Regions from separate parts of the Homo sapiens genome. Here regions 2, 3 and 4 are each linked to region 1. The links come from fine-mapping of genetic effects on gene expression. A gene starts in region 1. Each other region holds a variant in brackets. All regions are shown on one strand. Distances are between the middles of the regions. Region 1 holds the start of DOCK9-DT (DOCK9 divergent transcript). Region 2 has its middle 27 kb from the start of DOCK9. Region 3 has its middle 21 kb from the start of DOCK9-DT. Region 4 has its middle 32 kb from the start of DOCK9-DT.

The links. PIP is the estimated chance that this variant, and not a neighbour inherited with it, causes the effect. A credible set is the group of variants that fine-mapping cannot tell apart.
Region 2: its variant is the best candidate, but not a certain one, in a credible set for the expression of DOCK9-DT in tibial artery (GTEx, PIP 0.52).
Region 3: its variant is the best candidate, but not a certain one, in a credible set for the expression of DOCK9-DT in whole blood (TOPMed, PIP 0.62).
Region 4: its variant is the best candidate, but not a certain one, in a credible set for the expression of DOCK9-DT in aorta (GTEx, PIP 0.57).

The regions. Positions count from the first base shown.
Region 1 is chr13:99,083,679-99,089,954 of GRCh38, reverse strand. DOCK9-DT (DOCK9 divergent transcript) reads right to left here and starts at 3,232. Exons shown (of 1, transcript NR_047482.1): 1 at 1,330-3,232. It also overlaps a transcript of DOCK9 not described here. RefSeq lists enhancers at 1,547-2,106, 2,669-3,230 and silencers at 2,111-2,340, 2,921-2,980, 3,071-3,380, 3,421-3,900.
Region 2 is chr13:99,003,000-99,007,999 of GRCh38, reverse strand. It overlaps a transcript of DOCK9 not described here. Among named protein-coding and RNA genes, the nearest start is that of DOCK9, 27 kb to the right of the region's middle. The variant C/A (reference allele first, on the strand shown) is at 2,560.
Region 3 is chr13:99,105,072-99,111,347 of GRCh38, reverse strand. No RefSeq gene overlaps it. Among named protein-coding and RNA genes, the nearest start is that of DOCK9-DT, 21 kb to the right of the region's middle. The variant C/T (reference allele first, on the strand shown) is at 3,181.
Region 4 is chr13:99,052,495-99,057,494 of GRCh38, reverse strand. It overlaps a transcript of DOCK9 not described here. Among named protein-coding and RNA genes, the nearest start is that of DOCK9-DT, 32 kb to the left of the region's middle. The variant C/G (reference allele first, on the strand shown) is at 1,980.

The DNA.
Region 1 (6,276 bases):
GGCGTGGTGGCTCACGCCTGTAATCCCAGCACCTTGGGAGGCTGAGATGGGCGGATCACCTGAGGTCAGGAGTTCGACCTGACCTCAGCCTGGCCAACATGGCAAAACCCCTTCTCTACTAAAAATACAAAAAATTAGCCAGGTGTGGTGACAGGTGCCTGTAATCCCAGCCTCCTGGGAGGCAGAGGCTGCAGTGAGCTGAGACTGCACCACAGCACTCCAGCCTGGGCAACAGAGTGAGGCTCTGTCAAAACAAACAAACAAACAAACAAACAAACAACCATTCATACTGAATTAGGGCCCACCTATTCCAGTAGGACCTCACCTTAAGTTGGTTACATGTGCAAAGACCTATTTCCAATAAGGCCACATTCACAGGTACTGGGTTTGGAACTTCAATATATCTTTTGGGGGACTACAATTCAACCCAGAACAGTAGGGACCAAGTTTCTGCTGAAACTTTAACACTAGGAATGTCCCATTTGTTATCAACAGCACTTCACCAGGAAGAAGAGGCTCCACTCTGGGTTGCTGGGTCCATCTTCCTGGGCTTAGTTCACGTTTCCATGCCGCCTTGTCTGTCAGAACCTGTGCTTGGTTAGACATTGCCAGTGACTACTGTTGGCACATTGTCTGTTGTTCTCTGCTTCCTAAATGAAAATCTGCCAATTCTAGAATATACTGAATCAGCAAGTAAGTACAGAATTTAGGAGTGGTAGAGATATGGATAAAATTGGTAGGTTTGGGGAATTCTTCACTTTCCAGATATACATATATTTAAATAAAATTTATGGTAGGTCATTGTCTTGGACTGAGCTCCTGAACTAGGCCCCAACAGACCAGACTAAAATGAAGCCACTGTGTTAGGTGCCACGTAACTAAACAGAGATTTTAAAAAACAGGAAAATCCCCAAAAGGGCCAGTTTTCCAAAAACCAGGAGATTCACAGCAACCAGTCAAACGGGGCCCAGTCAGCCTGAGCCAGCTAAGGCAGCCCCCTCTGCTTTAACCCATAAAGGAGAGTAACCTGAAGTTACCCGATGTGCTTTCGGCACTATGCTTTTCCCTTGTTCCTGCTTAAGTTACCTTAACAAAACCCAGCTGTTCTTCCATTCCCACAAGAGCTCCCGTCTATTTTGTAGTCAGAATGCTGCCTGGTTCATGCATTGCTAATAGAAGCCAATTAGATCTTTAAAACCATTTGTTGAAATTTTGTTCTTTAGACTACACACACACACACACACACACACACACACACACACTCTACTGTAATCATATAGCTCTTAAAAAAAGAAAAGAAAAAAGAATATAAAACCCTACAACCTTAGGTGCTTTTGTTGTTGTTTTTAATTTAAAAAGACAAAATTGTTCGCCTTGTATAGAAGTAGATACAGCTTAGAGAGCCAAGGTAACAAGAGGGGAAAAGTTTGTGTTGTCTGGTACTTTTGAGGGAGTCAGAAGCCTAAAGGGAGGCTCTAACTCATGATTCTCAGAAGACAACTGTTGTCAACAGTTCAAATGAGAACTGAACGGCCACACTCCTGCAGCTGAAAGGAGTCAATGCGAGCTGAGTTGCTCTCACCGAACAGAGTGCGTTCCCCGGGGAGGCAGGGAAAGGCCGGCTTGCACCTGCTCTGTCACCCAGCTCCACTCTTAGGACAGAAGAGGTCTGGAAAATGTCTGGGCCATTCCCTCATTTCACGGAGGAGGAAATGGGTTAGTGTGTAATTGTTTTTATCATCACCCTTGTTTTATCTTTCAATCTGCCAGGCTCACTCAATGCTACATCCTGCAGTCCCCACCCACTGGAGAAACAATCCGATCCTGCAAGTAATTATTGAGTGCGGACGGCATACCTCACCTCCAGACCTGCCCATTAAACCCAGAACGGAGGTGTTTTGCTCTCTGCGCTAGATCGGTATTTTCCCCTACCACTTTAAGATTACGCTTCAGGCCAGTGTTAGGCTTTCTGGTGGGGTGGGACGCAACAGGCGGCCTCCTCCACCGCAGCGATGGCGGCTATGAAACCTCTGGGTATTTGGGCGGGAGGCGCGGCAGGTATTCTCCCAAAACTGGGTTTTCAAGACCACCACTCTCTGCGGAGGCCGACCCGGCAGGTAAGGAACTGTCCATCGGAAGGCAACGGGCGTGGCGTGAGCAGCCCGACCAATCAGCAGAGCCGCCGTTCAGTCAGGCTCCCCGCCCGGGGTACCCGCCCAGTCCCCAACCACTGAGCATGCGCCGCGGGCCTGGCGCAAATCCCCGCCTGGCGCGCCCTCTCCGCGGCCCTGTGAGGGTTAGGCTGCGCCGGGCTTCCTCAGAGAGACAGAAACGGAGCCGGGGCGGGAGCGGGCCCTTAGGGACAGGAAAGCGGTTAGGGTATTGGGGGGAAAGTCCCTCACAGGGTGGCTGTCGCTAGCGGCCGCCAGCTCTGCGTCACGGTGGGCTCGCAAGCCGGCGCATCGCAGTTTCCCTGGTACCCCGCCTGGCGGTCCGGCGCGGAGGGGCGGCAGACCGGCTAAATCGGCCCCAGTGAGGGCCGCCGTGTCACCTGAGCCCCTTCCAGGCCGTTGTCCTCAGGTTACAGGCGACATAACCGAGGCTCCGAAGTATTGCCCACGTCCAAGGTGACGCAGCTGGCCGTCCCGGCGGGCCGGAGTCTGGGAGTCTCCCACGCCTGGCCCGGCCCAACCGTCATCGTCCCGCCGCGAGCTCCGTGCCTCCGGGGACTGAACGGTGGGGAGGCCGAGGCGCCACACGAGCGCGCGGCGCCCCGCGCCAGGTTCCGAGCAGGGACGCTCCGTCCAGGTCCGCCTGGCCGGCCGCGGGTTCCGATCGGTGCCACATAAATAAAGGCTACTTTCCTGAGACCTCTGTCCCCGCAGAGGCCCCGGGCGCAGAGGGGGGGCGTGGTGCACCGAGCTCCGACCCTGCCGGTGACTTCGGGGTCCCCTCGAGCGCAGCCGGGCTCCCTGGGCAGGAAACCCTGCTCCGAAACCGCGCATCGTCCAGCCTCGGCTGTGCGCCCTCTTGGTGGCGTGCGCAGTCCCCTCCTCCGGTCTTCGGACGTGCGGCCCGGGGCGGAGGCGGCCCCGACCCCCCACCTTCCCCAGTGAGGGTCCCGCGCGGCACGCCGCCCCTGCCAGTCCGGCCGCCTAGCTCCAGCGCCGGGCCGCGCCGACCTGCCTGGCCCGCCGTCCCGCCGCGGCGGCCCCTCCTCCGCCGTCCGGGCGCCCCGCCCCGCCCGCGCCGCGCCGGACACCCCGCCCCGAGGAGGCGGCCCGGCGAGTGGTCGCCGAGGGAGGCTGGTGGCATGGGGGAGCCGCCGCCGCCACACGCACGGTCGCCCGGAGCGAGCCCGGGCGCTGCTGCGATCGCGGGGGGCCGCGGACGCCGAGGGGGGCGCCTTGGGGCGTGACACGGTGCAGAGGGCGCGGCCTGGGCTGCGGCGGCCGGACTCGCGGCGAGCAGCGGGGGGAGCAGGCGGCGGCGGCGCCGGGAGCGGCGGGCGGAGCGGGCCGGGCGCCGAGGGCGCACCTGGCGGCCGCGCGGCCGGGCCGGGCCGCGGGAGCAGGCGGAGGCGGAGGCGGCGGGGGCAGGAGGATGTCGCAGCCGCCGCTGCTCCCCGCCTCGGCGGAGACTCGGAAGTTCACCCGGGCGCTGAGTAAGCCGGGCACGGCGGCCGAGCTGCGGCAGAGCGTGTCTGAGGTGGTGCGCGGCTCCGTGCTCCTGGTGAGTGCGGGACGACCGCGGGCCGGGGGAGGATGGCGGGGGCGCAGGCAGCTGCGGGCCCCGGGCCGGGCGCCTCTTAGTCGGCAGGGCTGAGGCAGAGCGGCCGACCCTGCTGGGTCCGCGGAATCAAGAGGTGGGGCCGGCGGGAGGGAGTTGGACAGGGGAGAAGAGAAGGTCCTGGAGGGGCTGCAACTCCCAGACCCCTCCCCGCCACCCAAGATCCTGTCCCCATCGCTGTCCCCTTCCTCCTGGGAAATTTCCGCAGAGTGATGTCGCCCTGTCACTCTTTTCACCCCGCTCTCTCCCAATTTACCTGCTTTCTGTCAACTGGGAAATTACACTCTCCCCCCTCCCCCGCATCCCTCCCCCGTATCCCTCCCCCGGCCTCCCTCTCCTTCCATGTTTTGGAGGGGCGCAGGGGAATTGAGGTGGGGGCTTCCTCATCCAGTCTGCGCTCAGGGTGGGAGATGCCCCTGCTAACCCTTTGAGTTGGCTGAACTCCAGGAGGGAAGGACTTCGGCATCCTCTCCTGCGCCCCCCACCTCCAAGCCGGTATCCTGAAGTTTGGCCGCCTTTTAGGAAGGCTTGGGGGGCATGATGGGAACCCTCGCTAATTTAGTATTGGTGCAAATTCCTGTGACGTTTGGGGGTTCTAAGTAAGCAAAGCCATCAGCCCAAAACGAATCTTCCCGTGGCAGAACGTCTTTAGAGAATAGGCCTCTGGGTGTGAGGAAGATGAAGTTTTCGATTAACTTTTTCACAGCCAGCGCCGGTCCTGCTGTATTTGGAAACGCACTACAACCCGATTCACCTGGATGGTGCGGGAGTGGAGCGACGTTTGAGCAGGAGCGAGCTCTGCAGGGCAGCTGGAAACTTTTAGCAGCTCCTTGCGTTGCCGCCGGCATTTGTTTTCTTGAAACGGGCTTGTTTGTGGGTGGGTGTGACTTGTGTTTGTTGGAACAGTGCAAGAAGATGGGCCTTGGAAGTGGTTGTCTGGGCCCTGTGGGGGATTGTCGGGGCAGAGTGCCGGGCCCCTTAACACAGGGGCGGATGCATCATTTTGGTGGCAGATCGATGCCCTTCCTGGGCAGACACAGAATTGCGTGAATGACGTTTGTGGAGATTGGAGATGAAGCTTCGCTGATTTCTATATCCAGTTTGCTCAGTTTGAATTTTCTCTCGATTGCTAGCTCTGCCAACTCCAAATTTCTCCAACTCCAGTTTGATCCATAGTAAACAAGGATTTAATTTTTCTATTTTAGGGAAGTCGATTAGGTAAGGAGTAGAGCAGGAGTTGGGAATAGACCAGAACCTGGCCATCTCTTCCATAACCAGCTAACTTCTGTGTGGCTTCCTGCATCTTCCTGAGTTTTGCCAGTGCATGTTAAGGATAAAGCCTGCAACTTCTTTGGCATCTTTTCTGTTCTCACACAGAAGTTGGTTCCTTTATCTGGGGCCTGCCGTGGTCATCAGGGATTTGAGGCAGAAGAAGAGTAAATAAAGTGTACCAGTGTGCCATGATTTCCAAAGTGCTGCAGGTACTGGTTTAATAAGCCGTGTAGATGGAGCCCAGGAGTGCTGGTGCAGACACAACACTGCTGATGTGCAGTAGTCCCCGAATATCTGCCCTTCCCATCGGAGGATGGCCTACTAATGGTGACCTAGGAGTGTCCATTCCCACGTGTGACAGGCTGCCAACTGTGTTATCTCATGATACTTTAGTAGTACATCCGTTTTCCCTGGACACCCTTAAGCATGAAGAGCCAGATGCCCGGCTGTTGTCTTAACTCTTAGTCTCGTCTGTCTGTGGTCACTTGTCTGATGAAACCTGTGATGGAACAGATACAAAATGCAGGGAAGCAGGTGGGCCTGCTCTGGCATGTGAGGGCCCCTGGCTGAATGGGAAATAGGAAATGCATTGTGATGGTTCTGAATTGCAGAAGGAAGAATCTGGGAGGGCTTACAGATACTGAAAATTACCCACACACCTCATCCCCCCACCTCCTTCCTGGTACTCTGCCACTGCTTACTTCCTCTAGTGGCTCCAGTGTCTGCCAGGGAGCCACAGCAGGTGCACCTGCCACATAAGTTCTGGCCGGGCTTTGTTGTATGAAGGTCTAAGAGGTGAGGTAAGGTAACCCTGGACTTCTCAGGAGGCAGAGCAGCAACCACGCCAGGTTCAGAATCCCATGGTCTGTGCATCTGTCCTTAGATGGAAATAATTACTCTGTGTCTGATAACTTGGGTCAGCACTAATACAATGCCCACAACATAAATGCTCAATAAATATTCTTATCTAGCTAATAAAGCAGTTCTGCAGATGGATTTAAAAAAAATTAAACTATGTGTGGGTTTAGTAGCTCTTCCCACACTTCAAGTATTGATGAGTGGATGGTCATGAGATCAGAAACAACAAAATGAAATAGTTCAGTGGATGATAAAGGCTGCCATTAAAAACAAGCTTTAAAATGTAAACATAATGTGGGCTTATCCATTTTTCATTGTTCAATAGCTTCATTTTTCATGTGTTCAGGTTCATGGACT
Region 2 (5,000 bases), 81 kb after region 1:
ATTGTTTTCTTAGCAGATTTCCAGATCTGGAGTAGCTAGCTCAAAATATATTTACTTGTTAAAGGATTTTGGTATGTATAGCCAGACTACCCTCCAGAAAGATTATTTGGAGATTTTTAAAAATTCAAGATAAGAAAGTTTGTGTTCACCTCTTCTGACTTCGAGCAGTTTGTTTTCATCATTGCTATTTATGAAGTTGATGATGGGGTCACCTGTTGAACAGAATACAGTGACTTAGATTGCTGTATACTTAGGCAAGTAACACAGTCATATCAGGGTTCAAATTAGCACTAATTTTGCCTCTGCTTCTGGAAGCATGATCATGAGCATTCTTAAACATCCCAGGAGAGTTCTGAAATGTTCCATTGTGGGGGCTGGAATGTGTTTGTTCTGAGAGGTCTTCACCCTTTTAGAGTTGATATAGCTATTTCATGGATATTCAGAAGTAAAGAGCAGCAGCAGAAATACTGAGTAGAAACAGATGAATAAAGCTGCTACTGCTTTGCTGAAGTTGATTTCTATTTCTCCCATGGCCTTAGTGAGAAGCAGTGACCTTTTTGCTTTTTATTTTTTAATTTTTAAATTAAATTAAATTTTTATTTTTATTTTTTTTGAGATGGAGTCTTCTTCCGTCACCAGGCTTGAGTGCAGTGGTGCAATCTTAACTCACTGCAACTTCCCCTTCCTGGGTTCAAGCAATTCTTGTGCCTCAGCCTCCCGAGTAGCTGGGATTACAGGCACGTGCCACCACACCCAGCTAATTTTTGTATTTTTAGTAGAGACAGGGTTTCACCATGTTGGCCAGGATGGTCTTGATCTCCTGACCTCGTGATCCACCCGCCTCTGCCTCTCAAAGTGCTGGGATTACAGGCGTGAACCACTGCACCTGGCCTAAATTTTATTTTTTTGAGACAGGGTCTGGCTCTGTCACCCAGGCTGGAGTACAGTGGTGCAATCTTGGCTCACTAAAGCCTCTGCCTCCTGGGCTCAAACCATCCTGCCACCTAAGCCTCCTGAGTAATTGGGACTACAGACAAGCACCACCATGCCTAGCTAACTTTTTGTATTTCTTATAGAGACGGGTTTTCACCTTGTTGTCAGGTTGGTCTGGAACTCCTGAACTCAAGTAATTCACCCACTTTGGCCTCCCAAAGTGCTGGGATTACAGGTGTGAGCCACCACACCCCACCATGCTTTTTGCTTTTTAAAAGTAACATTTGTTGTCTTTTATATTTAGAATACATAAGTACTGTAGAAAATTTAGAGACCACAAAGAAGAATAAGAGGAAAACAAAAATTACCCATAACTCACAGCCCAGAAACCAAAACTGCTTAATTTGTGGTATGTGTTTTCTGATATTTTTCTCTGCTTCTGCAAATATTAAAAAAGGGATAATTGTCCATAAAAATTTCTGATGCATTTTTCACTTACTGTATTTTATTATGAGCATTTTCTTATGCCCATAAAGTTCTGCTAAAACATGATTTAACATATGTATAGTATTCCATTGTAATATATGTACGGGAATTTATTTAAATACTTCTCTGTTGTTCAGTATTTAGGTTGTTATAAATCGAGATTACAGAAGACATCTTTACCCAAAAATCTGTGTGGATCTATAGTTATTTTTGTAGGCTAGATTTATAAAAGTGAACTTGCGAAGAATGAATTTTTTAAAGGCCTATTAAGGCATATTGTTTTATTGTGTGATGACTGATCCAAGTTACACTCCTAGCAGCAGGGACTATTAGTGCTTTTTTTATATATGATCCTGGCTAGCATCATTTTTGCCAGTTTGAGAAACAAAAGATAACACCTTTCAAACTCTAAATCCTTCGTTATCTTCATCACGTGTTTCTCTGTTTTGTCATTTGCCTTTTGATTTTGTTTAATTTCTTTATGGTACTTATTTTACTAACTGAGGTTTGAATGTAAATGGTATACATAACCATCTTTTCCTCTGTGGTTTCTTCCATTACCTTTATGCTTAGAAATTCTTGCCTATCTGAGATCAGATATTCACCAGTATTTTCTTTTGGAATTTGTTTGTTTATTTACTATTTGTCTTTTCCCCTCAGGGTTAGCAGACTAAGTCTATGGGGCAAATCTGGCCTGCTGTCTGTTTTTGTAAATAAAGTTTTATTGCCACATAGCCACATTTGTTTTTTTATATTGTCCAGGCCTGCTTTAATGGTGCTAGAGTTGAGTCATTAGGACAGACACTTATTTAAGTCAGCTGATAAAGTCACCTGATAAATATTATCAGCTGACCTAAAATATTTACTAGCTGGCCCTTTGCAAAAAGTTTGCTGTGCCCTGCTTTAGTAGATTTAGAATTTATTTGGATTTATAGTTTAGTTAAGATCCTAATTCAATTTCCTACCCATTTTTCCCAGTCCCATGTTGAATAATCCATTCCTTACTCAGTGGTTTGTGATACTGCCTTTATTATATTTTATGTTCTTTTATATACTAGGCTTTGCAACAATTGGAAGAAAACCCTAAGGCCTTTTCCTTTTTCCCCTACTCCCCATTTTTTTCTTTAGTGTTCTCTGTGC[C/A]CTGCAAAAGCAAGGTTCTTATACAGCTGTCAGTTTAATTGCAATTCAGGAAAAATGAAAACAAGAAATTTGGGGAGAGACATAAATTCTATAATTTAAAGATAGAATAAACAGACTGTACTGCGTAAGTTGCTGAATTAAGTGATCTTATGAGACATATTGGTTAAGATTCAGGAGCTAAGGGTTAAGGTTTAAGTGAGCAGTTAATTATATTTGTAGGTTTGTTTCCTCAGTAAATAGCCTGTTCATAAAATAGATCAAGCTTGTCTTTATGTGGACTCTCTGGGGCATTTTGATGAAAGAAAAATTCCAGCGTGGCAGCTGCATCCTCAAGTAACCTTGATTTGAATCTACTCTTTTTTTTTTTTTGGTATATCCGGTCTTTGCTAACAAAAGAAGTCCCAGCAAAATATAAGCAAAGGTGCTAGCAGAGTTTCCAAACAAAGTCTATTCATGTCTGCAGGAAATATATCTGTACATTTATAGATGAAGAGTACATTCTGGTTTTCCTTTTATACATTATACAAATTCTAAGGATAATTAATTTCCCTCCTTAACTAGATTTTATAGTGTATACGAAGGTTTGGATATGAATATGTGTGTGTGAAGTACATGTGACTGTGTGTGTGTGTGTGTGTGTGTGTGTGTGTGTGTGTCTATAGTTTTTTGGTCAATGCAGTACTAGAATATTGAATAAAGGTGTACTTTACTATTTTTCAAATGTCAATGAACAATGAATGACCTCATCCTAGGATACGTTTCAATCAGCATTTGTTTCTCTGCCAAGGAAAAACACATATCCTAGGAGACTCAAAGTAGAAATGACTTGTGAACAGAAGCAGAGGGACCACTTGGAGCCAATTGCCGATGATAGGTGTTTTCTCTGCTTCTTGAGTAGGTTCTGCCTTTGCAGAGTCTGTGGAGTGAGACTGTTTATGGGATTCTCAGATGCAGTCCTGTATGCTAAATAGTTTTATGGATGTTTGGTATTTCCTGTATATTTTCTAGGCTTAAGAAACAGGTAACAACATTATCAAAGACTCAGTCTTGTAACTTATTATTTCCTTGTGCTTTCTTTATTGTTGAAGAACAACTGGAAGAGAATCCTGAGGTCTTTTCCTTGTTCTCCCCCAACCTCCCATATTTTCTTCAGTTCTCAGACATCCATTGGATGTTTGCCAATTACAGGGTGGTATGATATGAAAGAGTCATAATCTCTGCTCTCAGAGGGCCCATAAGGCTGCCACGTGGGATATGGGCCATGATGGGGGTAAGCACAGGTACCACAAGCACCTACGCAGGGCTCCTTGTAGAAGGATTTAACCAGGTGAAGGAGAAGGAGAGGGACGTTTCTGCAGAGGGAGCAAAGTCCCAAGGAGGGAGAGCTGAGGGCTCCTTGGAACTGCTAGTAATTCCACAGTGCTGGAGGGGGCTTATCAGGCTGTAGGACAATGGTGGGAGTAGAAGGGTGACCAGTGAGGCTGGAGAGGTAAGCAGGGGACATATCATGGTGGGTCTTGTTGGAACTTTATTCCTGTATTAGAGGGAAGCCATTTAGTGAAGGTTTTAAAGAAACATGTTCATGTTTTTAATGAATCTCATACTGTACTTATCCTGCAGGGTGGATAACGGCTTAGAGAAAGGAGAGGTCTCAAGACAGGAACACTAGTGAGGAGGTCATTGGGGGGTCACAGGTGATGGTGGCCTGAAGCAGGTGGTGGAGGAGATAGAAGATTTAAGAGAGTGTTAAATGAGAGATTTGGCAGTTAAATAAGAGACAAGGAGTCAAGAGTGTTGGTATTTGTGCCCTGGGCACCTCCAGGGTGCCACCTGCTGAGGTGGGAGCACTGAAGGAATGGATCAGGAAGAATTGGGAAAGGAGGATTTCAGTTCCAGACATCTTGAGTTTGAGGTTTAGCGCATCACAACATGTAAACCAGTGGGATGCGACTAGTAGGACCATAGCTAGAGTGTGGATCCCAGCACAGACAGATGTCTGGTAATGAAGGATGGAAGGGGATGAGATCTCCTGGTGAGCGTATTCAGAAGGCAAAGAGCCAAGGGCCCTGGAAGGGACAGGAGAAGGAGCTGGGAAAGGAGCCTGGAGCTGAGTGCTCAGGGATGGGGAGAGCCTGCTGTGCATCTGGAAACAGAATCTTAGCTAAAGAAATAAATGCCAACGGCTTGAAGACCTCTGTCTGAGTGTGTTTGTTTAAGCCTCTTGCCTCTAGTTCACCAACACCATCATCTTTACTGTCCGCAGGAACATTTAACAAAATATGTTATGTGCACACCATCCTTTTAGGCACAACAGAATTTCAAGGTATCCCCTTGGCCTGGAAGGGGCTTGTGTAGTAGACTGGGGAAAGAATTGATCATTGAATAAAACCATTCTCTTCTTCTTTCCCCTCCCCTCCCCTCCCTCCATCAGAAGAGCAGAC
Region 3 (6,276 bases), 21 kb before region 1:
ATTTTAGGCCAATAGAAGATATCGTTTTGAGTAGGAAAAGAGGAGTGGGGAAGGAACCACTGGACTCTCCCACAAATCACATTCCTCACCTTCCATAGTGGTGGTCCTACCACCTTGGGAAATCTTTTTCTCCTCTCTTCCAGAAGCTGCTATTGTATATCATCTTCAAAGGTCAACTAATCTTTGATAATTGCAGATAATTAAGAGTTGGATATATTAGGTCCAATGGTTGATTTTGATTATTCATTTTTAATGCTGAAAAATGAAAGTATTTCTCTATTTAATAAGTTCATTGCTATGGCAACCCCAACGAAGTAATCACAACCTTGTAAATCAATAATAATAAGGTGTATGTAAAATACACATTTATATAATTATATTTGTTCCATATAATTATATATAATTATACCTTAGATTTAAGTATTCCTTTTATTTGATAATGTGTGTTTTATGGAAAACTACATACTTTATTCGTGAGATGGGAACGCTCCCTGGATGGCTGAATGGGAGTGAGAGGAAATATTCTACCCTAGGATCCCCTAAAGTGCCTTCAGATGTGTTTTATAGCATTCATTATGCTTTAAGAAAGGTTCACTAGACACGAATAGCAATAGAAACTGTGTTGCACATTTCCCTCCTGCATTTTTACACCACAGAAATGTGGATCTGTCTTAAAAGTGATAGCATGATAATCATTATTGACAGAGAGACCATGATAATGGTCATTGCCTGTGAACATATGACCTTGGTTGTTATTCATAGTTGAATAACTGGACAACGGACATCCCTGGTATTTAATCAATAAACCATTTAAGATCCACACGTGGGAAGAGTATGAGTCCTGGTGTTGTCAGAAAACATTCCATTGATACCTTCTGATAATATCAGGAAAGTGTCAGCAATGGATGAGGAAAACCCAATTTGTTACATTTTCCTTTTAGGGATCATACTCTTGATGAAGAGTCCAAGAACTCTGCCCCGTCCTAGGCCCCAAAGATTTTCCCTTTTTTCTGCCTTCTTTTTCCCTTCTTTTTAGAGATAGGATCTCAGTGCTGTCACCTAGGCTGGAATATAGTGGCACAACCATAGCTTACTGTAACCTCCAACTCTTGGGCTCAAGTGACCCACCTGTCTCAGCCTTCTGAGTAGCTCAGACTGCAGGTGCACATCACCACACCCAACAATTTTTTTTTTTTTTTTTTTTTTTTAGAAACAGGGTCTTGCTATATTACCCAGTCTGGTCTCGAACTCCTGGCCTCAAGCAATCCTCCTGCCTTGGCCTCCCAAAGTGCTGGGATTACAGGCATGAGCCTGTAATCGTCAAATAGTTTCAGTAAAAATAAATCGAGAATACTGCCTTCATTTAAAAACCTGAGAATTGTTCCTTCCTCTTTTATTCTTCTGAAGAGAGTGTATAGAATTAGTGTTAATTCTTCTTTAAACATTAGGAGAATTGTCCAGGAAAACCATTAGCGCCTGCAGATTTCCCTTTTGGAAATTTTAAAATTGTAAATTAAGCTTCCTTTATGCATAGGACCATTCAAATGATGTTTTTCATATTGGAAGAATTGTAGGTTTTTTTTGTTTTGTTTTGTTTTGTTTTTTTTTGAGACGGAATCTCATTCTGTCACCCAGGCTGGAGTGCAGTGGCGCCATCTCGGCTCACTGCAACCTCTGCCTCCCAGATTCAAGCAGTTCTCCTGCCTCAGCCTCCCAAGTAGCTGGGATTACAGGCATATGCCACCATGCCCGGCTAATTTTTTTTGTATTTTTAGTAGAGACAAGGTTTCACCATATTGGCCAGGCTGGTCATGAACTCCTGACCTTGTGATCTACCCACCTCAACCTCCTGAAGTGCTGGGATTACAGGCATGAGCCACCGTGCCTGGCATGTCATTTTTTTTTGTTTTGTTTTTTGTTTTTTTTTTTTCCAAGAAATTGGTCCATGTATTTTAATTTGTCAAATGTATGTATGTAGAGTTATTAATAGTGTTTCCTTGTTATCTTTTTATGTCTGCAGGGTCTGTAGTGATGTCTTCTCTTTCCTTCCTGATATTGATAATTTGTATCTTGTCTCTTTTTTCTTTGTCTGTCTTGCTAAAGGTTTGTCAATTTTATTGATCTTTTCAAAGAACCATCTTTTTGTTTCGTTAATTTTTCTCTATTGTTTTTCTATTTTCAGTGTTGTTGATTTCTGCACTTTATTTCTTTCCTTCTACTTGCTTTGAGTTTATTTTGCTCTTTAAAACAATTTTTTTTTCTTTTTTTTTTTTTTTAGACAGGGTCTGGCTCTGTCACTCAGGCTGAAGTACAGTGGCCTGATATTGGCTCGTGGCAACCTTGACTGCATGGGCTCAAGTGATCCTCCCACCTCAGCCTCCTGAGTAGCTGGGACCACAGGCGTGTGCCACCATGCCTGGCTAATTTTTGTAGTTTTTGTAGAGACAGAGTTTTGTCATGTTACTCAGCTGGTCTTGAACTCCTGAGTTCAAGCGACCTATGGCCTCCCAAAGTGCTCAGATTACAGGTATGCTGCACCCAGCCTATATTTTTCTCTTTTTTATTTCTAGCTCTTAAGGTGGAATTTTAAATTACTGATTTTAGGGTTTTTTTCTCTATAAAAATATATGCACTTAGTACAGTACTTATATATTTCCCTCTTAGAATTGCTTTGTCCTACAAGTTTTGATATGTTATATTTTCTTTTTTTTTTTTTTTTTTTTTTGAGATGGAGTCTTGCTCTGTAGCCCAGGCCGGACTGCAGTGGTGCGATCTCGGCTCACTGTAAGCTCCGCCTCGCGGGTTCACGCCATTCTCCTGCCTCAGCCTCCTGAGTAGCTGGGACTACAGGTGCATGCCACCACACCCGGCTGATTTTTTGTATTTTAGTAGAGATGAGGTTTCACCGTGTTAGCCAAGATGGTCTCGATCTCCTGACCTCGTGATCCGCCCGTCTCGGCCTCTCAAAGGGCTGGGATTACAGGCGTGAGCCACCGCGCCCGGCGATATGTTATATTTTCATTTTCATTCAATTTAATGTATTTTTTTTTTCAGTTTCTCCTGAGACCTCATCTCTGGCCCCTGAACTATCTAGAAGTGTGTTGTTTAGTTTCCAAGTGACTAATTTCTAGTTTGATTCCACTGTAATCTGGGAACACACTACGTATGATTTTAATCAAT[C/T]TTTCTTTCTTTCTTTCTTTCTTTCTTTCTTTCTTTCTTTCTTTCTTTCTTTCTTTCTCTCTTTCTTTCCCTCCCTCCCTCCCTCTTTCTTTCTTTCTCTCTCCCTTTCTTTCTTTCTCTCTCTCTTTCCCTCCCTCCCTCTCTCCCTCTTTCTTTCTCCCTTCCCTCCCCTTCTCTTCCCTTTCTTCCCTCCCTTCCCTTCCCCTCCCTTCCTTCGTTCTTCCTTCCTTTCTCCCTTCCCTTTCCTCCCTTCCTCCCTTCCTCCTTTTCCTCTTTCTCCCTTCCTCCCCTCCTCCCCTCCTCCCTTCCTCGCTTCCTCGCTTCCTCCCCTCCTCCCCTCCTCCCTTCCTGCCTTCCTCCCTTCCTCCCTTGCTTCCTTCCTTCCTTCCTTCTTCAGACTCTCACTCTGTTACCCAGGCTGGAGTGCAACCTCCTGGGCTCGATTCTCCCACCTCAGCTCCCTTAGTAGCTGGGACTACAGACATGCGCCGCCACACTTGGCTACTTTTGTACTTTTTGGAGAGGTGGGGTCTCCCTATGTTGCCCAAGCTGGTCTCGCACTCCTAGGCTCAAGCGATCCATCTGCCTTGACCTCCCAAAGTGCTAGGATTACAGGCACGAGCCACCATGCCCGGCCTTAATTCTTTTACCTTTCTTGGGTTTGTTTTGGATGATCTTCTTTTTCCAGTATCTTAACACGGAAGATTATGTTGCTAATTTGAGATCTTTTTCATTTTTAGAAAAATTCAATGGCTTTTGATTAAAATTCAGTTTGCACATCTGTCATCGTGATCAATTTTGAGTCATTTTCATTATTCTAAAAAGACATCTTACACCTCTTATTTGTCGCCCTCAATCTTTCCACGCTATTCACTCTCCTAGGCAATTGCTGATCTACTTTCTGTCTCTATCTCTTTGCCTACTGTGGACATTTCATAAAAATAGAATTATATGATATGTGGTCTTCTGTGACTGGCTTCTTTCACTTAGCATACTGTTTTCAAGGCTCATACATGTTGTAGCAGGTTTTAATACTTCATTCCTTTTTATGGCTGAATAACATTCAATTGTATGGTTAAAATACATTTTGTTTGTCTGTTTACCAGTTGATGGACATTTAGGTTGCTTCCTTTTTTTGATATTATGACTAATGCCGCTATAAACATTTGTACACAAGTTTGTGTGTGAATATATGTTTTCAACTCTCTTGGATATATAATTAGGAGAGGATGTGCTTGATCATATGGCAACTCTATGTTCAATCATTTGAGGAGTTGCCAAACGGTTTTCCAAGGCAGGTGCACCATTTTATATACCCATCAGCAGTGTATGGGGGTTTTAATTTCTCCACATCCTCACCAATACTTATTATCTCTCTTAAATTATGGCTATACTAATGAGTATGAATGGTTTTACTTTTTTTTTTTTTTTTTTTTTTGAGACATCATCCAAGCTGGAGTGCAGTGGCATGATCACAGCTTGTTGCAGCCTCAGCCTTCTGGGCTCAAGTCATCCTCCTGCCTCAGCCTGGAACCACATGCATACCCCACCACACTCGGCTAATTAAAAAAAATTTTTTTTGTAGAAACTGGGGTCTTGCTATGTTGCCTGGGCTGGTTGTGAACTCCTAGTGTCAAGTGATCCTTCTGCCTCGCCCTCCCAAAATGCTGGGATTACAAGCCTGCCACTGTGCCTAGCTATGAATAGTTTTTCACGTCTTTCAGTTGTATTTTCCTAATGGCTAATAATGTTGAGCATGTGCTTATTGGCTATTTGTATATCTTCTTTGAGCATGTCTAATTAGGTTCTTTGTCCACTTTTAATTGAGTCATTTATCTTTGAATTGTAGGTGTTCTTTATGTATCTTAAATACAAGTCTCATCAGTTATATGATTTGTAAAAATTTTATCCTATTTGATGAGATATCTTTTCATGTTATTAATAGTGTCCTTTGAAGCACCAATGTTTTTCATTTTGAGGAAATCCAATTTATATAATTTTTCTTTGGTTGCTTGAGCTCTCTTGGTGTTGTGTTTGAGAAACCATTGTCTAACCCAAGGTTGTGAAGATTTATGCCTATATTTTCTTCTAAGAGTTTTATAGTTTTAGCTGTTATATTTAGGTCTGATTTATTTTGAGTTAATTTTTACACATGGTATAAGGTAAGGTTCCAACATTATTCTTTTTCATGAAGATATCAAGGTGTCCCAGGACAATTTTTTGAAAGAACTATTTTTCCGCATTAATTTTATCTGCACACTTGTCAAAAATCAATTGACCATAAATTCATGGGCTTATTTCTAGAGTTTTAATTCTACTCCACTGATTTATATGTCTATCCTTATGCCAACACCACAGTCTTGATTACTGAAGCTGTATAGTTATTTTTGAAATCAGAAAATGTGAATCGCCAGCTTTGCTGTTTTCAAGATTAGTTTGGCTATTCTGGGGCCCTTGGATTTCCATATGAATTTTAGGGTCAGTTTGTCAATTTCCACAAAAAATGTAGTTGAAATTTTGATAGGCATTGTGTTGAATCTCTACTGCTACCTGTTTTTGCATTGGCCATAAACTCAGAATGGTTTACGTTTTGAAATTATTGAAAAAAAGTCAAAAGAAGAATAATATTTCATGTCAAGTGAAAATTATACAAAGTTCAAATTTCCATGCGTATAGAGTTTCACTGGAACACAGCCATGCTTGTCAATTTTTGTATTACCTATGGCGGCTTCAGCACCACAGTGACAGAGAGGAGCAGTTGCAACAGAGACGTTTTGGCCAGCAAAGCCTACAATATTTACTAACTGGTCCTTTCCAGAAAGTTTGCTGACCCTTGCTCTAGACAATGGCAAAGACTGAATAATCATTGCCTGAAAGTCCAAGCAAAATCAAACCCTAGGACTATAATCTTGGGCTGGAATTTTTCCTCCTATTCAAGGGGTTCTTGTTGTGCTATGTTTAGACCTGATGGAACTTGGTTTTTAAATTTTTTTCTAGTGTGATATGTAAATGTAGAAAGAGAGTGGCTGGACATGCATGTGGCAAGAAGAAGGAAGATGAAGAGGGAAAAGATAAACTCTGTGGGCATTAATAGAA
Region 4 (5,000 bases), 32 kb after region 1:
GGCTTAGTAAAGAAATCAGAGGCGCAATGAAGATCTGGTCCTCAGCTCACCCAGGACTTACCGTGCCTTAGTGGCAGGGTAATTGTCTCAAAATTAAGATTTAAGAATACCATTTTCCCCCTATTCAGTGGTTACCTGTTTTGTGCTGTAAGATTTCAGGCCCAATATGTCAACTCGTAACATTTTGAGACTACTACTTATTTTTTCTTGTCTGTATGCTAGGAATTAGATGTGTTAATTTGGACTCTTGGTTGCAAGTGACAGAAACTCATTCCAAGTAATTAAAGGAAAAAAGGGATATATGTTGTAAGGACACAGTATGTCTCCAAGAACTAAAGGGTGGGGGTCCAGCTGAGTGTATTGAGGGGGTCCCAGCCTTCAAGATCCTCTCTTATCTCGGCTGCTCTCTAGAGTTTTTGGGTCCTCTGCCTGGAGATTGACTTTCTTTGCTTCTAGTCTACATGGTAGGAATTCGCTGTCTGAGAGACCAGCTACTTGGCAAGAAACTGGTCCTTCTCTCAGGCTGCTCTAATCCCCCAGGGAGGTGATCCACATTGGGTCCGATACCAAGTCATGGGGTCATCTGTAGGAATGTGGCTTCTCGGATCCCCGCTGCTGTACGCATGGCTCCTCAGGGCCACTGTCTTTCCTCAGGGCGAGGAGCTGCTCCTTGGCCTCCAGGGAAGGCCTGTCCTGGGGGGCCTTGCATCAGACCTGGCATGAATGACCCTGATTGCCACTGGGGGAAGGGAAAGAGGACATCTCAGAAAAACAACACGTTACAGGGAAAGGGAGGTGCCGGGCAGCCACCCCAGCAGGTGTACTCTCCATTAAATTTATTTTAGCTGAGAAAATAGAATTGGTGGGGGAGGAGTTTGTTGCCCCCAAACATAAATCCATCCAGAAATGACTTCTAGGTTGCTCATTTCTTTGCTCTGGGTGACTGGGAGCTGGTTTTTTAGCCAAGTCTGGGCCACACCTAGTTGAATCATTACAGACATAATATCTTTTTTCCCCTCAGTTAATGTATAAACTAATATTACTTATCTTTTTTAAAGATATTAATGTATCTTTATAATACTTTTGCATATTTAGTATGTAACCTTACTTTGATAATGTTTTCCAGTAAGATTTGTTGCTTTAAAAGACAAACTCTCAAACAACTTTATCAGTACCATTTAATGTGCCCAAACAATGTCAAACAAGCAATGATTGGATAGCCAGGGAAGCTGAATTGCCTGTTATTAGTTTGTATGGTGAAACATCTCACAATTGCACTTTCAAAAGTATTTTTTACATATATATTCTAAAAATGATCAAAACATTTGGCACTCCGTTTACAGGAAAAAAATATATATTTCCAGGGAAACTCTCTATGTTCACTAAACTGGAAAGACCTTGTGGAATTTAAATTTGTCATCTTCAAAGGCTTTGGTATAGAATACAGTAACCAGACCAGGTTCTGTTTCATTCAGCTACAAAGGCACTTTTGTTGTTACCATTCCACGTCCCTGTGATGCTTAGTGCAGCTGATATTTGGTCCTGACAGTGCTTTTGGAAAGCTTGGCTGATTTCTGAAAAAAATCCCAGATTCTTTGGCCTAGGAATTTATCATAGGCCTCAGATCCTGGGTCTAGTCACTGCAGACAGCTAGTATATGTTAAAAGCTGTCTTAGCCTGTATCTAGTGTCTGTCTTCATTTAAGGCTGGAGAAAGGCTGTACAGGCTTATTAGGCACAGCTGTTAGGAACCTAGAGAACAGTTGACAACTGTGTGCAATATTATGGTAATAGTATAACTTATTAATAATATCAATGTAGTCAATATTATCAATGTAATTGAGTAATACAGCTTAGGCCACAAAGAACTGCATATAGTTTTCCATTAAAATCCCAATCCACATTCCATATGCCTCTCTTCCTGCTCTGCCCTGCACAACTGACCCTGTGCGCCTGGCTGCTCCTCTCTTCTAATTTCTC[C/G]CATTGCGGTCCCCTCCACAGTTAAGCACCGGCTCGCTTTCTCTTAGGTGCGATGCCCCCTTCCCCGCACTGGAGGCTGCCCAGCCAACGCAGACGTTCCCACTTCCTGTTCACACAGAATCGCCTCTTCCTTTCTCATTTCTCACAGGGAGTCCTCTTTTCCTGCTACCGCATGGGGACACAGATTTTGTTTTTGAAAGTTTGTAGAAAGTTCCTTTAGTGCTAATCTCCAATGGGACCCTACCCTACACAGAGGGCAAGTTATTTTCTTCCCATTCTGTTTTTTGGAACTTTTATTTAATTTCAGACTTATATGAAAAGTCAAGGATAGTATAAGGAAGTCCTGGTGTACCCTTTAACTAGATACCCCGGTTGTTTCAAATTATTATTTTTTGCTAATCCATAGTAGTAGAGTAATGGGCCATTCATTCATATGTTCATTCAAGAAAATTTCATAGCAGAACCTTTGTGCAAAAAAAGTGGATGAGGCAATTCTTTCCCTGCTTCATTTCTACTATTAGCAATTCATGACTGATTTAGCTCTTTGGTTTGTGAAATGGATGACTGAAAACCTCTCCTAAGTTAGGAAAGTAAGTGAAGAAGGCACTTTAAAACTGAGGTGCCATCTTTTTTGTCTTCTCTGTGGGATATTCATTTAAAATTTTTCTCGTAGTAAAGGCAAGCACAGATGGAAGGTGGTATAAGGTTCAGCCTCATCCCTTAACTTCAGCCTGATGGTGCTTGTGATAGTGCTTGATTTGCTGGTGATACTGGCGTAGTTAAGAATCTCCCAGCTTAGGAGAGAGAACTTAACATGGCAAAGGTAAAAAGAGGAGCAGGTTTCATCAGACTATTGTGCTTTATGCTTGAGGCAGGGCAGTAGCAATGGAAGAACTTAGATGTGATTCTGGGCTTATGCCTTCCCTCTTGCTTGCCCTCAAACCCTGTCCAACCAACAACTAACAGCAAACCAAGTTTTTAGATTTATCACAGTTAGGGACTTAACTGCTTTATGTGGACTTGTGTGGCTTTCTCAGCTATTCTGTAAAACCTGCTTTATTACCATTGCTATTATTTCTGCTGTTGTGAGCTCAGTGTCAGTGTCTGGTTGTTAGGATGTACAAAGATTCTGGGTGAGGCTATGTTGGTCTAGAGCTCTAGGTTATAGTGGGCCATGGAAGCCCACCTTTCAAATTTTTGGCGAGGCCACAAATTACCCCATTAAGGGTCTCAGAGCATGGAGAGTAATGTTTTTATGTTTTAATTACTCTAGACCAAGGCTGTTTTTTTTCTAAGTGAGAGCACTAATATTTGTAATTTTGCAGCCATTGGGTTTATAAATATGCCTGAGTAATCCCCATGAACTAGATTTTAGAGTGAGCCACCAGAAGAGTCTCCTCTTTTGAGATGCGGCAAAGAATTGCAGTGTCTTACAGTGGAAAAGGAAGACAGTGAAAAATGATCTATGCAGAAATTCACCCCTGGTTTTGGCTTTTGACTTCTTCATGACTCCCCTTTCTTGCTTACCGTGTTAGGCAGATAATCTTCTTTGAGATGTGGTAGTCAGACTAACTCAGCCCCATCTGCTTTGTGTTTTTTTTTCAATGCAAGATTAACCCTGCTTCCAAAACCTCCTGGTGTTTTCTTGGGAGTAGGAGGGTGAGTGAGGGGAGGTGGAGGGTGTGGGGTGCTTCGCTCCTCTTGTAATAACCCTCAAGTGTGTGCTATCTGATGGGCCCAGGCCACATGTTGTGCTATCGCTGGGGACCAGGTAACAGTCTGAGGTTTCTTGGTTACAGTAACTGATCCTCACTCCAGGCCCTGGCAGGAAGGAGAACCCTCCTGCAGTTACTGAAACCTGGTTCCCGGTTTTAATTTCTTTAATTCTTTTGTACAAGGGTCTGAGTTACAGAGGTTTCTCCTTGTCTCAGAAAGTTCTTACCATTGGCTTTAAATAAAACCAGGTGGCTTTCTTGGTTCAAGTGGCTTACAGAAAGAATACCTTAGAAAGCAATTTAATTCAATTACATTTAATTAAATTATATTGAATTTGAATAATTAAATTTATATTCTAAGTTTTTTTCTTAGAAGCATAATGAGCTATTTTAGAAATATGTATTAAGGTTGCTGGTTTTTTCCTTCTGCCACAAAACGTGATTTGCATGGGAAATTATTTATAGTAGCTTAGAATTCTGAACAAGAGTGACAAAATTTATCTTCTTTGCTCTCCTGCAAATTTGTATAGGCTTAGGAAATTTTGTCATTTAACAAAGCTCTTGAAATCTCTGTGGCTTAAGTTACTGTGGACATAATTCTTATCTGATTTCAATAGAAAAGGACAGTAGGGATGTGAACACAGTGGCAGCTGGGAGAGGGCGCAGGAGTGATGTTAGTGGTAATCTATTTTATTTTCAGGTGTGTTTAGGAACTGGGCTCCTGGAGACAACCAAGAAATTGGGAACTGGAAGTGGTTTGACTGAAGGAGTAATGGGAGAGACTTCATCCCAACGGCGAATCCCTACTGAGGCCTGAAAAACCTACCATTAGAAATTCATTAGCATCAATAGAGTGGAGAGACAGCCAATGGAATGGGAGGATATATTTGCAAATTGTACATCTGATAAGGGATTAATATCCAAAACATATAAAAAACTCAACTCAAAGTGAGAAAACAACTCAGTTAAAAAATGGGCAAAGAGCCTGGGCAACATAGTGAGACCCTGGTCTCTACTTAAAAAAAAAAAAAAAGAAGGCTGGTGTGGTGGCATGTGTCTATAGTCCCAGTTACTTAGGAGTCTGACGTAGGAGGACCACTTGAGCCCAGGAGTTCGAGGCTGCAGTGAACCATGATTGCACCACTGCGTTGCTCTCCAGCCTGGGTGACACAGTGAGACCCTGTGTCTACCCCCACAAACCTCCCCAAAAAAAAGGGCAATAGCCATTTTTCAAAAGAAGACATACAAGTGGCCAACAGGTATATGGAAAAATGCTCAACATCAATAATCATCAGGGAAATGCAAA